3 separate regions of the Homo sapiens genome follow, and all the other regions are linked to region 1. Evidence: fine-mapped expression QTL. A gene starts in region 1. Each other region holds a variant in brackets. All regions are shown on one strand. Distances are between the middles of the regions.

Region 1 (5,106 bases):
ACCACCCCGCTACAGTGACAGAAAATCCTCTAGGAGGGAGCCATTCTTTATGCACCGCAAAATCCCTAGTTAGACCCCACGTATTAGCAAAAAGGTTAACTGCTTACAGTCATAAACATTTTGGAGTGAAATATTCAGATTACCCAGCAGGGCCTTGAGGAATTGAACCCATCCAGTTAAGGTTAGCTCACGCAAAAAAGAAATTTCAAGAAACTTCTAGTGTGTACCATCCTTCAACACTAGATCGAGGTCAGCTGCAAGGACAAGCCTTCACATATGTGTAGTAAAGGGAAGGGAGTCAGAGGACTAAGTCTGGGCTCTAAAGAAAAAAATTGCAGATGATGTGAAAAATTTCCATCTTCTGCAAAATGCTGCTTTAGAATCAGTCTTAAATAGCAGCACTAAAGTTATTCATCCACAGCAAAGCAAAAACCATAGAGCAGAGGGATAGGGGCCCATACCATTCATCTAGACAATACTGGTCTTCATCAAGTTAGAACCAACAAAGAGCTAGATAAAAGCCAACAAGCCAGTCACTGTCCACAAAGCAGATGTTCACGTTACACGTGGCATTACAGCATCAGGGAGAAGGATTCCTGGCACTTTTCACATTTGAAAGCACTCCTCCCACACTTGCTGGTCTGTTTTGTTTTAATACCTGTGCTTCCCCCTCTGGGGCCCTCAACCTCTCACAAAATGGCATTGAAGCTGCTTCCACACATGACTGGGTATCTTCGGCCCTGGGCCTCTTCAAATCAGGCAACTTCCACTGGCTGTCAGGGTGATGCATGAAATCCCTAGAGAAGAGAGGAAAAGGACCACGGCAGGGAGCCTCCTCAAGTGGGAACCACTGAGATTAACTCATTATCCGTTGGCAGGTAAGAAGAGCAAAGTCCCTGACTGGGCTGGTGACCATGGGTGCTGAGACACCCACTGGGGACAAGGACAACTTGTCCAGTTTCTTCACAGTTAAGGTAGCAGGACAACCATCTAAGATTTCCCAAACTTAAGTCGTTTGAGTGCCACTCTTCATGACTATTTCTACGTCTCCCTCCTTACCTTTACTATAATTTAGTAACCGCGTCTCTATCTTGACTAGATTTTTGCATTTAAATATATTTATTTTAAAAGGAAACTCTATCATTGTGAAACTGCTTACTTAATGGAACAGATTTTCTTAATAGTAACGAAAACAAGTAACTATGTTCATCCATATGCCACCTCAAATCATTGCTATTACCCCCAGTGGTGCCACCTACAGTAGCAGCTTTGGGAAGCACAAGCAACACCTGAGGGTTCAGCGTTCGAGCCCAGGCCCAATCGGCTTTTCTCCACCTCTTCCCCTTAACCAAAGGTCCCGGCAAGGGGACGCAGCAGCAGTCTGCACGACCTCACCCACGTCCTCTGGCCGCCCCTCCCCTCCAGCAGCACCAGGTTTCCTGTCAAAACAAACCCTTGGGGGAGGGGACGGCGGAGGCAGAGCTGAGTGCCGGGGAAACCACGGCAACAAATCCCAAACACACGCTGCCGGGCCCGCCCTGCCTCTACCCTGGCTCAGTTCCCTACTCCAGCCCGGCCGAGGAGTGTGGGGGAAGGGGGTGCCCTGGGCCCCTGATGGCGGGATGCCGCTGGTACCTGTCCAGCAGGATTTAAACAGCGGCGAAGCGGCCTCCGAGGCCCGAAGTCCGTGTCCACCCCGACACGCGGGGCGGCCACTCGGTGCCCCGCTCCCCGCTCCCACGCGGGACGGCAGTTCGAGGTCAAACAAGGGGACGCGGAGTGGGAAGACATGAACTAGGAGCCGAGCTTGATGGCCCCTGACCCCGCCTTCCCAGGATGGAGTTCCGAGATAGGGCAGGGGAGCCTTCGGGCTGCAGCGGTGTCCCCTCCGTTGGACCTGGCCGGTCACCTCCGAGCCGGCAACGCCTCCCCCGTGATGGATACGCACCGGGTCCAGCACGTAGACAAGAGGAGAACGGCGACGGAGTGACCCCGGGTCAGGGCTCTCTGGGCGTCCCCTCACCGAGCACAGCACAGTCACCTCGAAAACTCACCAGCCCAACAAACCCCCCCAGCCCCAGTGTCCCCCCCAACGCGGTATTTAAAGGGCCCTGAGGGACTCTAGGGAGGCAGCCACGGCGCGGCCATCACAAAACCGGATAGCGGGGGGACGACGGCGCGACGGGGCAAGGGGATCCAGGGCCCTTCAGTCTCCGAAAGCCGAGCGCTCACAGACTGAACCTATTAGAGAAACAGTCTTCGTCAGTTTGAACCAGAGAGGCCGAGAACAGCTCGGATGGGAGGGTGTTTCGGATGCGAGAGGGCACGGTTCCCCCGCGCGGCGAGTGGTGCGGTCCGGGCTGCCGGGGGCGGGGTGAGAAGTGTTTACGGAACTGAGGCCGCCGAGCCGACGGGAGCGCCCGGCGTTGGGGGCGGGGCCTGCCAGGGCACTGGGGGCGGGGCCGAGTGGGGGAGCGGGGGCTGAGCGGGGGCTGAGCGGGGGCTGAGCGGGGGCTGAGCGGGGGCTGAGCGGGGGCTGAGCGGGGGCTGAGCGGGGGCTGAGCGGGGGGAGCGGGGGCTGAGCGGGGCTCTGGGGAGGTGGGCGAAGCCGCGGGCCAAGCCTCCAGTGGAGTGCCGGACAGATCCCCTGGGCTTCCAGGCGCACTGGCGTGGACCACACTGCGAGCTCCCGGCCGCGCGTGGAACATTGAGTGCCCGCACACCCCTGTCTAGACGGGGCAATCGGAACTGGGTGCCCACCAACACACTGTCCACACTTACAGAGACAACCCAACCAACAACGCTGCTGGTGGGCTTTCCCACGCACGTCAGCCACTAACCGGGTCATCTCCAGTTGCGTCTACACCTCCACATAAACACGGGTCTAGATTTGCACCTGCACGGGACGATTAGCTCCTTGGAGTCACACCCATCCAGGCCCTCTGAAGACTTGGCGTGCGTGCAAAAGATAAAGCGTCTTACTTCCTCTAGGGTTCTTGGCAGCACCTATCTCCGGGAGAAGTTTCCACCTTGGTTAATGTAAATAACCAGTCCCAGGAGGGCTCTGTGCCGTCTGGCCTGCTGCTCAGCTCCTGCTGTGGGCGTGCTTGAGGGTGTAGAGAAACAAGCTTCCCCCAACTGTTCACATCAAAACTATGCCTTCTGCCAGGTGTAAATCGGTGCTGTATTACTTGGGAAATAGTTTCATGCAGGAACTACTTACATGAAGTTTGTATAGACTAAAGTATTTCTGTTTAGTGCCGAAATTATGTCTGGATTGTGGAGGCAGATTGGCCACCACCGTTCAAAAACAACAACAACAAACAACAGGCAACATTTTAAAGCAGGGTAGAAAGTCAGTTGTTCAGTGGTTACAACACAGACTCCTCTATGGTTCCAGTCCTGGCTCTGACATTCACTATCCATGAGATCTTGGTCTCTGGGGATAACAATGATAGCTATTTCCTTGGGTTATTTTGAGGATAAAGTGAAATAAAGCATGTGAAGTGCTTAGCAGGGTGCACAGTAAGCACTCTAAGTATTAGTTATTGAAATTCTTTGGCAAACCACTGTGGCCAAACTTAGCTGGTGATCTGTATAAATTTGTATCTGTGCCTCCTTTTGCCACTTTCCTCTCTTCTCCTAAAATATACAACCTAATAATACAGGTTAAGAGATTAAATAGAAGGTGCTGTCCCCACCTGAGTTCTTCCCTACAAACATGCTCTTATTTGTGTCATTCGTTGGATAAGTAATCAGAATGACAGAAGCCTCCAATTTCAATTCCTGCCAAATGACAACCACCACACAACTGCCATCACCACCCTAAAAACTCCACAATAGAAAGATGAACACCCAAATCCCCCAAACTTCTGGTAATTCTGTGACAATGACACATGGCAACATTACTTCCTTTGTTAGCTTTGTAAGGATTTAAGTATTGTTTTGAGCTATGACATAAGTTGGAGCAGGTGACCATGAGTCAGGGTAGTTGTCCTTTATACTGGAGTGACCAGCTGCCTGATCCTAGGCATGACACTTCTTTTAAAGTTCAGATATGTAGCTCTCAAAGCCACCAGGAAAGCAGCTTTTGTCAAAGCAAGTTCAACTGTAACATCAGAGAACCAAGCTGAGATAAGAAAAGATGCTGGAAATACTATCTTCTGTTACTTTAATGTTAAATAACTTGCTATCTGAAAACCCTTCTGTGAATTACCTGACCAACTGCCCTTGGCCTGACTTGTGTATAAAAGCACTTTGGGCCAGGCACGGTGGCTCATGCCTGTAATCCAAGCACTTTGGGAGGCCGAGGCAGGTGGATCACAAGGTCAGGAGATCGAGACCATCCTGGCTAACACGGTGAAACCCCGTCTCTACTAAAAATACAAAAAAATTAGCTGGGCGTGGTGGCACGCACCTGTAATCCCAGCTACTCTGGAAGCTGAGGCAGGAGAATCGCTTGAACCTGGGAGGTGGAGGTTGCAGTGAGCCGAGATCACGCCACTTTACTCCGGCCTGGGCGACAGAGCGAGACTCCATCTCAAAACAAAACAAAACAAAAACAACACTTTGAAAAAATGGAGTGCTGTAAAATATAAGGCAGTTCCCTCAAAAATGAGCCTTGTATCACATTGTTGCTCAGAGGGCTCAGACAGTCATAACACAAAATCTTCCCTGCTCAGGTTATGTTTATGGCTTTCTGAGGAAAAAAAAAAAACAACAAAATCTGAAAAGGCAACCTCTTTAGAAGTAAAATAATTAGCATTTTATTTGAAGAAGACATATTATTACACCTAGTTTTTCTAACTTACCTTTTTGAACCACTTAGAGAACTCACAGTAATACAGTTTTTTTTTCTCCCTGTAAATTACACGGTAGACTAAATGTGGTCTATCACTCTTGGCAAAAGACTAAGGGCAGATCAAAATTTTTGTTCGATGAAGAAATAGAAATACTCATTTTCTTTTTACACATCTGAAATCTGAGTTTTAAATTATAATAAATCATTGACAAAAATCTAAAAATGTAATTACAGTTGGATTTGCAACCTCTCAGCCTTATAACTTTTCTAGTGGAGTTGCATATTGTACTGATTTAATGTAATGC
Region 2 (5,106 bases), 230 kb before region 1:
TTCTCTTCATACCTTTAAATATCCTTTATATGGCTTTATACAGCTTTATACCCTTAAATGTCCTTTTACATCTAATTATTTGAATTACAGGTTTAAAAACTCCTTTGAACTCACATTATAAAATAATGTCATTTTTTCTCTAATCCTCTTTAAAAGTCAACCTCACTAGGGAACAATTTATACACAAGAAAATGCACACATTTTAACTGTATAGATGAATGAATCTTGATAAAGATATACATCTGTATAATCACTACCATAATAAAAATATTTTCATTATCCTAAAAAGTTCCTTTTTGCCCCTTCTCAATCAATTGCCCCTGCTCCCAGCCTCACACCACCACTGATCTGCTTTTTATCACTATAGATTAGACATGTCTTTCCTAAAGTTTCATAAAAATTGAATCACATAATACTTACTCTTTTACGCCTGGTCTCTCAGTATAATGCTTTTATTATATTGATCTAGTTTGTTGCATATATATGTAGGTTTGTTCATTTTTTAATTCTAAGTAGTATTCCTTTTTATAAATATACCACAACTTGTTTAGCCATTTTTATCTATTGGGTGGCTACCAGTTTTGGGCTATTACGAGTAAAACTCATATGAATATTTTGGTACAAATCTTTGTGTGTACATATGCTTTCATATCTTTTGGATAAACACCTTGAAGTGAAATTGCTGGGTCATATGGTAATTGCATATATAACTTTATAGGAAACCATCAAACAGCTTTCCAAAGATGGATTTTTACACTCCCTTTTACACTCCCATCAGCAATGTATGAGAGTTCCAATGTCCCTATATCATCACCAACACCATCAATTGTAATTGTCATATTAAAACATTTTAGTTATTCTAATGGTTATATTGATACTTCATTGTGGTTTTTTAATTTTAACATTCAAAATTGTTTCATTTATTATTTTACTGCCATACATGATTAAATTTCAGTTTAAATTATTCACTTCCTGTAATTTTTAAAGATAAACCTTTTATTCTAGAACAGCTTAAATTTACAATACAATTACAAAGATCATACAAAGTTCATATATACCTAATACCCAGTCCCCCTTATTATTAATATCTAACATCAGTATGGTACACTTATTAATGAGCCAACATTGATACATTTATTATTAACTGAAGTCAATTCTTTATCCAGATTTCTTTAATATTTTCCTAATGACCTTTTTCTGTTCCAGAATCCCAGTCAAGGTAACACATTACATGTAGTAGTCATGCCTCCTCAGGGTCCTCTAGGCTTGCTCTTGCCTCTGCCACTCCAACAGCAAGAAACCATATGCCATATGATTGCCACCATATGCCATCATTCACTTAATCGCTCAACCACAGTGTGTAGCGGTATCAGAATTGTTAACCCACAACTCCCTGGGGAAAACTGTATCAACTAGATCAGTGGTCCCCAACCTTTTTGGCACCAGGGATCAGTTGTGTGGAAGACAATTTTTCCATAGATGGGAGTAGGGGGCTGGTTTCAGGATGATTCAAGAGCATTACATTTATCATTAGATTCTCATAAGGAGCATGCAACCTAGATCCCTCACATGTACACTTCACAATATGAGAATCTATGAAATTCTCTCCTACAAGAATCTAATGCTCCCACTGATCTGACAGGAGGTGGAGCTCAGGCAGTGACGTTCACCCACCGCTCACCTCCTGCTGTGTGGCACGGTTCCTAACAGGCCACAGACCAGTACCGGTCTGCAGACCAGGAGTTGGGAAGGACTGAACTAGGATAAATGCTTATATACAGTTTCTTGTGCCTTTAGCCTTACAAACTTGATTCACTTCCAAAGCTACTTAGGTCAGCACCTTTCCCTACCTCCTTTAATGACGCTGCATTATACATTTGTAATACAGGTAGGTTTTTTTTTTTGTTTTTTTGTTTTTTTTGTCGTATTCTACATTCCATCTTGGGATCCCTCAACCTCCCAATTGTTTTTTTTAAAACTTTACATCCATTAAGGTTTATT[C/A]TTTGGGCTACAAAGTCCTATGGGTTTTAAACAAATGCATAGTATGTATTTTCCACTACAGTATTATATGGAATAAATTTCTCCACCTGGGATGGAGGAAAAACCTCCCGTGCTTCACTTTTTCAACTTGTCTCCAAACCCCAGCAACCACTGATGTTTTTACCACTTCATTTTTACCAAAAATTGTTGCCTTTTCTAGACTCTTTCACTTAGCAATATATAATTAAGTTTCATCTATGTCTTTTTATGGCTTGATACATCATTTCTTTTTATTGTTGAATAATATTCCATTGCATGAAAGCATCTTAGTTTGAATGTCTATTCACCTATTGAAGGACATCTTGGTTGCTTCCATTTTTTGGCAATCACAAATACAGCTGCTATAAACATTCGCATGTAGAATTTTTGTGTGTGCATGTTTTCAAATCAGGCAAATACCTAGCAGCATGATTGCTGAATTATATGGTAAAACTATGTTTAGTTTTGTAAGAAACTGCAAAACTGTTTTTCAAAGTGGCTATACCATTTTGCATTACCACAGCAATGCATGAGAGCTCCTCTTGCTTTGCATCATCATCAGCAATTTGTATTGTCAGTTTTTTGGACTTTTTTCATTCTATAGATGTGTAGTGGCATCTCACTGTTAATTTTTAATTTCCTATTGGCAAATGATGTCAAGCATCTTTTCATATGCTTATTTGCCACCTGTATGTCTTATTTGCTGAGATGTCTGTTCAGATCTTTTGGCCAGTTTTAACTAGTTCACCTTCACTATATAACTTCATGGTAATGAACATACCTTATAACAGAGTAGAGATTGCAGCTCTGACTCGGACGGACAGAGCAGCGTGCTGAGGCTTGCATCATGAATTTTAGCTCCAGATCAACTGCAAGAACAAACCAGCAATCCCGAGAGGACCCACAGACCCTCTGAAAAAAGCGGACTGCTCCTGCAGGACCAGGGAGACACCACAAATACCGTGAGTGCCCCAACTGCAGAAGTGGGAAAGGGAGAGCCTCCTCTCCCGAACACACACCCCCACTGGAGAAACTGAAGGTCTGTTTGCAGGAGAAGTTTCCAACTGTACCTGGAGCTGAGTCAATTTAGAGAGCTGAGTGAAATACAGGGGTACAGGAAGCAGCAGAAAGGCCCTGGGAGCTTGCTGGATCCCCAAGCAGGCCATTCTTGCCTGGCACCACAGGGATCCGTCAGGAAGGCAGCAGCCAGAGGAGTGGAGTGCAAGGGGAAACACTACAGGGAGAAGGAAATCTCCAGCTAACTTTGTAGCAATTTGAACTGGGTGAGAAGCCTCCTGGCTAGAACTTGGGGGAGGGTATGAATCCGGTGTGCAGACTCCACAGGTGGGGGAAGAACCAAGCCCCTTTCTTTCACAGCTGGGAGGTGGGTAGCCTGGGGCAAGTTCTCAAGCCCGGCTCGCCCACCACCTGGAAACAGATTCAGGGCTGTTAGAGGGGCATGGTGGAAGTGAGACCGGCCCTTCAGTTTGCATGGGAGCTGGGTGAGGGCTGTGACTGCTGGCTTTCCCCCACTTCCCTGATAACCTGCATGACTCAGCAGAGGCAGCCATAATCCTCCTAGGTGCACAACTCCATTGACCTGGGCACCTCACCCCCATCCCCCATAGCAGCCATAGCACCTAACCCTGCCACCACCTGATGGTCCTTCCCTACCCACCCTGGTAGCTGAAGACAAAGGGCATATAATCTTGGGGGTTCTAGGGCCCTACCCTCTGCTGGTTCCTCCCCATACTACCACAGCTGATTCTCTGGAAAGTGCCACCTCCCAGCAGGATGCCAAGCAGCACAAAAACAGAGCATTAAACCACCAAAGCTAAGAACCCTTACAGAGTCCATTGCACCCCCCTGCCACCTCCACCAGAACAGGCACTGGTAACCACAGCTGAGAGACCCATAGATAGTTGTCATCACAGAAGTCTGTGCAGACAACCCCCAGTACCAGCCCAGAATTGGTTAGAATTGCTGGGTGGCTAAACCCAGAAGAGAGACAATAATCACTGCAGTTTGGCTCACAGGAAGCCACATCCACAGGAAAAGGGGGAGAGTACTACATCAAGGGAACACCCTGTAGGACAAAAGAATCTGAACAACAGCCTTCAACCCTAGACCTTCCCTCAAACAGAGCCTACCCAAATGAGAAGGAACCAGAAAACCAACTCTGGTAATATGACCCAACAGTACTCTTTAGCACTCCCCAAAAAATCACACTAGTTCACCAGCAATGGATCCAAACCAAGAAGAAATCCCTGATTTACCTGAAAAAGAATTCAGGAGGGTAGTTATTAGGCTAATCAGGGAGGCACCAGAGAAAGGTGAAGCCCAATGCAAGGAAATCCAAAAAAATGATACAAGAAGTGAAGGGAGAAATAATCAAGGAAATATATAGCTTAAAGAAAAAATAATTAAAATTTCAGGAAATATTGGACACATAGGAATGCAAAATGCTCTGGAAAGTCTCAGCAATAGAACTGAACAAGTAGAAGAAAGAAATTCAGAGCTTGAATACAACATCTTCGAATTAACCCAATCCAACAAAGACAAAGAAAAAAGAATAAGAAAATATGAACAAAGACTCTAAGAAGTCTGGGATTATGTTAAATGACCAAACCTAAGAATAATCTATGTTCCTAAGGAAGAAGAGAATTCTAAAAGCTTGGAAAACATATTTGGGAGAGTAATCAAGGAAAATTTCCAAAGCCTTGTTAGAGACCTAGACATCCGAATACAAGAAGCACAAAGAACACCCGGGAAATTCATCACAAAAAGATCATCACCTAGGCACATTGTCATCAGGTTATCCAAAGTTAAGACAAAGGAAAGAATCTTAAGAGCTGTCAGACAGAAGCACCAGGTAACCTATAAAGGAAAATCTATCAGATTAACAGCAGATTTCTCAGCAGAAACCCTACGAGCTAGAAAAGATTGGGCTCTATCTTCAGCCTCCTCAAACAAAACGATTATCAGCCAAGAATTTTGTATCCAGTGAAATTAAGCATCATATATGAAGGAAAAATACAGTCTTTTTCAGACAAACAAATGCTGAGAGAATTTGCCACTACCAAGCCA
Region 3 (5,106 bases), 43 kb before region 1:
AAACCCTGTCTCTAGTAAAAATACAAAAATTAGCTGGGCATGGTGGTGCATGCCTGTAATCCCAGCTACTCGGAAGGCTGAGGCAGGAGAATCACTTGAATCCGGGAGGCAGAGGTTGCAGTGAGCCGAGATTGTGCCACAGCACTCCAGCCTGGGCAATAGAGTGAGACTCCATCTCAAAGAAAAAAAAAAAAAAAAAGAATGGCAAATGAGGCCGGGCATGGTGGCTCACGCCTGTAATCCCAGCACTTGAGGAGTCCGTGGTGGGTGGATCACGAGGTCAGGAGTTCAAGACAAGCCTGGCCAACATGATGAAACCCTGTCTCTACTAAAAATACAAAAATTAGCTGGGCGTGGTGGCGGGCGCCTGTAGTCCCAGCTACTCAGGAGGCTGAGGCAGGAGAATTGCTTGAACCCAGGAGGCAGAGGTTGCAGTGAGCTGAGATCACGCCACTGCACTCCAGCCTGGGCGACAGAGTGAGACTGCGTCTCAAAAAAAAAAAAAAAAAAAAAAAAAGGCAAATGATAATGATCCTTAGGAGGGCATCTTGGTCATAACACGGTAAAGCTTTCATCAGCACAAAAGACATCTGGTAGTTAAGTTATATGGGTAAGAAATCCAAAGTTTAACTGTTTCTTTTTCAGATATGAACTTCATGGAGAATGGGATCTCATTTTATCATTGACTCCCTTTCTTCTTCTTACAAGTAAACCAAATGAGCCCTGCCTCACATAAAAATATTAAACTCTTATATAAACCTTATCAATGGCCTGAGAACTGCAAGGACATTCACTAAGAGATTTGTGCAAAAATTGTTTTTCTTGGAGAGCAGACTAAATTGTAAGAAGAAACAAACTTCTAGAATAATTTGAGAAGGGAGTTGCTTCTATTTTCACTAAACAAACAAGGGAGGTTTTATCTGAAGTTTGTATATAGCATGAAAATGTACTTAATACATTAAAATTCTAAATAAATACTGACCATTGGTATTATAAAGTGTGATTTGGTACATTTGTGGAATTTGAGGACTTACTTTGAAAGTTTCTATTAACACATTAATAAAATGTAATTGTACATTTCAAATACAATTGTGTTTACTTCACATCATTTATTCAGAACATCAGTTCCCTCAGTTATTGTCACAACCTTCAACCCTTTAAGGAGTTGTACCAAAATTAAAAACCATTAGGTTTGATAATAACAAGTGAGAAAAACAACTCCTTAGGGGTTAAATGTCATAAGCCAAATATAAATGGTTAAGAAAACATTTACAAGTATTATATAGGTAATATAATTAATTACAAATTGTTTTCTGTTCATTACAAATATTTGTTTTAAACTTGAAAATGATGCACAAATAGGGTCTATGTGATGTTTACGTCTTCTGAGGGTCTATGTGATGTGTGTGTCTTCTGTAATGCTAATATTACCCATTACACAGATTTGGGCTAATACTGCACCACAGTACTGAGAATGTGCTGGATCTCTAATGCCATCAATGGAAGTGGACTGGATACCAAAGTACTGGATTTCCAATCTCTCGTCCAATGTCAGTTCTTCTTTAGTTAGTAGGAGGTGAAGCATCTACCTTCCCCATGGCTTCCTCATTGAAGAGCAGCTTTCGAAGTATATTTGCATAAAATGGTCCATACACTTGTTTGTTGAGATTCACAATGTTTGCATATTGAGAGCCTAGGGCTTCTAGCTCCTGCTGAATGACAGCTAGGCCTCCTGGCATAGGAGGCATGCATTTTTGAGGGCTTGGAAGACAAAGTAGCCTTCTCATGTAAAGCTTAATTCGTTTATCTGAAGGGGAAAAAAAGATACTTTTATCTGTCCATTATTAAAGTACATAATTTTTAAAAACAAGAACAAGTAATTGTAGTAGGTTGACTGCAATAATGTTCCCAATTCTTTACCCCTCCCTGCACCCATCCCCTTTCCAAGGTAGCTTTGCAGTTCCTCCTATCAAAGCTGGAGTGTGTTTTTCCCATCCTTTCCATCTGGGCTGGCCCTGTGACTTACTTTGGCCAATACAGAATGCGGTGGAAATGCCAGAGTACCAGTTTCATGCCTTGGCCTCAAGAGGCCACTCTTGTTCATGTCCACCGTCTACCTACTACCGCCATGAGAATAGGCCTGG[G/A]CTTGCTGGAGGATGAGAGACCAAGGAGAGGGAAACCCAGCTGTTCCATCTGAGGCCATCCTAGACCAACCCATAGCCAACCAGCATTCAAACACCTGAGAAAGTCCAGCCAGGATCAGCAAAGCTTCCATCCTGAGTCACAGCTGAACCACAAATACATTAGTGAGTTCAGCAAGACCAAAAGAGCCACCCGGTCGCCTCACAGACTGGTGAGTAATAATAAATGCTTATTTTTTTTAAGCTCAGGAGTTTTGTGGTATTTTGTTATGCAGCAATAGCTGACTGATAAAAAAAAAAAGGCAGAGCCCTATTTGGGGGGAATCTTCTACAAAAGTTAATCCTAAATGTTCATGATTATAATTACATACACTAAAGCTGAGTTTGTAAACTGGCATTGCCAGTCTGGCCCATGCAGTGTCTTTTTTAAAAACAGAAGCCATTTAAAATCAGGAGATTTCACATAGAAATCCATATTTCTGCTTTCTCTTGAAAAATCTAGAGATCTGGCAAACTTGGGGGCCCAAATTACCACATGGCAAGGGGGACCACACATCTAGGTTTCCCCAGGACAGTCAAAATTTACACCTGTTGTCCTGGCATAATTTTAAAAAGAGACTCTCAAAAGTACCCTGGTTGAACAATAAATTACATGGTGCCAGGCGTAGTGGCTCACACCTGTAATCCCAGCACTTTGGGAGGCCGAGGTGGGAGACTGATTGAGCCTAGGAGTTCGAGACCAGCCTGGGCAATATAGTGAAACTTCATCTCTACAAAAAAAATTTAAAAATTAGCCAGGCATGATGGTGTGTGCCTGTAGTCCCAGCTACTTAGGAGGCTGAGTTGAGAGGACTGCCTGAGCTCATGAGGCTTCAGTGAGCTGTGATCATGCCACCACACTCCAGCCTGGGCAACAGAGGGAGACTCCATCTCAAACATAATTAATTAATACTAAATAAGTTACAGGGTACTTCACACATGGCCAAGAATCAGGAGACACTGAGGAAGGGACATCCCAACCAGCACACCATTGTGCCACCTTCCCTGCCCTTCCTGCATCACTGCCTCAATGTATTTGACTTTGAGACGACTACACAAAAGCATAGAAATGCATATGGAAATCAGGCTGCAATAGTATAGGACAACTATTAATAATACTGGACAGAAAAGACCTGCTATAGCTCAGGCTGCTCCAAGGGCTTTCTCTGGCTTTGGGAACAGAAACCTCACCAATAAGAAGGTTTACTAAGGAAAATATGCCACATTGAATATAGACAACTATGATACTACTAAAATTCTTATCACCAAAGAATGCTCACAAAAATCATACATTCCAGCTAGGTCTGACCTAGAACTTGTTTCCAATGTCTATGTCTTAGAATTCTTTCCTTTTACTAGAATGCCCTTCAATCTCATCTCATTTCATCTCATCTCTGCCCAGAATCAGAGGCATCCTTCAATGTCGTGCCAAAAGTTACCTCCTTTCTGTGACTTTCCTTAGCATCTGTTACCAGACTATCGTGACATATGATTGCCAGTTGAGAAGGTGTCTCTCTCCCTTCTTGGACAGTGGACTCTCTGAGCGTGAGGTTTATATCTTTTTTATCTTTATATTCTTGGTCTGTCATGTGACAGACACATTGTAAATGCTGACTGAACTTAAGTGAGAATGGACTGAAAAGAGTCTATAAAGATAAATAACGAACTGAAAACCGTGGCAGCCAGGGGAAAATGGGGACTGAAGAAGGCAAACAAAGGTGACTTAAGCCTTATCTGTATTTTTTTTCTTTTTTTATATATAGACAGGGTCTCCATCTGTTGCCCAGGAGAGTCTCAAACTCCTGGCCTCAAGCCATCCTCCTGCTTTGGCCTCCCAAAGTGCTGGGATGACAGGCATGAGCCACCGTGCCTGGCCTTTGTCTGTAATTTTTCTACAAGGAGAAATTATTGTATCACCTGTGCAACTGAAATTACTTGTTAAAAGTGTAGATGGCAGGCCAGGCACAGTGGCTTAGGCCTGTAATCCCAGCACTTTGGGAGGCCAAGGTGGGCGGATCACGAGGTCAGGAGTTTGAGACCAGCCTGGCCAATATGGTGGAACCCCGTCTCTACTAAGAATACAAAAAAAATAGCTGGGCTTGGTGGTCCGCACCTGTAGTCCCAGCTACTAGGGAGGCTGGGGCAGAAGTATTCTTCTTGAACCCAGGAGGCAGAGGTTGCAGTGAGCCAAGATCACACCACTGCACTCCAGACTGGGCGACAGAGCAAGACTCCATCTCAAAAAAAAAAAAAGTAGACGTAGGCATGCAAATAATTTACACAGCAGGTAATCCATAATTTTTACTTAGTATGTATTCGACAGAAAAATCCCTTTCTAATATCTTTTCAAAAGGTTAAGAATTGTAATGGGAATTGGGGATTATGATCCCTTCAGTAAATAAATAGCGCATCAACTGAGAACAAAAGAAAGCATACTGTGGGTACCCTTAGCAGAGGAAAACCATGGCCAACACTGATCAAGCCCTTCTCAGGTTCCAGGAATCTCTCTGTTTAATTTATTCTAACTCCTCTGCAGGCATACATTTAGAGTTAACTGTGTACTACTTTCCCTTTAGACTAGTTGCCTGACCTTCAGAGGCCCAGGTCTATATCATCACAGATATGATCCAAACGCTTTCCCATAAGAAGGTTTAAAAATGAAACCCTTTCAAAATCCTTATTATGTCAGCAAGTGGTTCTGCCTCTTTTGCCTCTTTTGCAGATGAGTCTGTTTTTAGGCAAAGGCTAAAGTGACCGGAGTGTTTGTAAAGTTAGGAGCAGCCACACGGAGTCCCTGCCAAAGGCGTGTCCTTGGCTTCCAGAGTCGAAGAAGAGACGTTCAAGTGAGTCACTTAAGTTGCTAGGGCAACAGTACTTTGAATGAGATTAAAAATGCTTTCAATTTGCAAAAGGACAGGAAAGTTGG

The links. PIP is the estimated chance that this variant, and not a neighbour inherited with it, causes the effect.
Region 2: its variant is fine-mapped to the expression of TCP11L2 in whole blood (TOPMed, PIP 0.97).
Region 3: its variant is fine-mapped to the expression of TCP11L2 in fibroblasts (GTEx, PIP 0.98).

The regions. Positions count from the first base shown.
Region 1 is chr12:106,299,784-106,304,889 of GRCh38, reverse strand. TCP11L2 (t-complex 11 like 2) reads right to left here and starts at 2,157. Exons shown (of 10, transcript NM_152772.3): 1 at 1,949-2,157. RefSeq lists enhancers at 2,090-2,229, 2,240-2,319, 1,494-2,379 and a silencer at 2,400-2,519.
Region 2 is chr12:106,533,991-106,539,096 of GRCh38, reverse strand. The region is part of intron 1 of LOC100287944 (a long non-coding RNA gene); the gene reads left to right. Among named protein-coding and RNA genes, the nearest start is that of RFX4, 46 kb to the left of the region's middle. RefSeq lists an enhancer at 2,955-3,454. The variant C/A (reference allele first, on the strand shown) is at 2,002.
Region 3 is chr12:106,342,987-106,348,092 of GRCh38, reverse strand. It overlaps TCP11L2 (t-complex 11 like 2), which reads right to left. Exons shown (of 10, transcript NM_152772.3): 10 at 1,090-1,807. The coding sequence ends at 1,563. Among named protein-coding and RNA genes, the nearest start is that of POLR3B, 12 kb to the left of the region's middle. The variant G/A (reference allele first, on the strand shown) is at 2,145.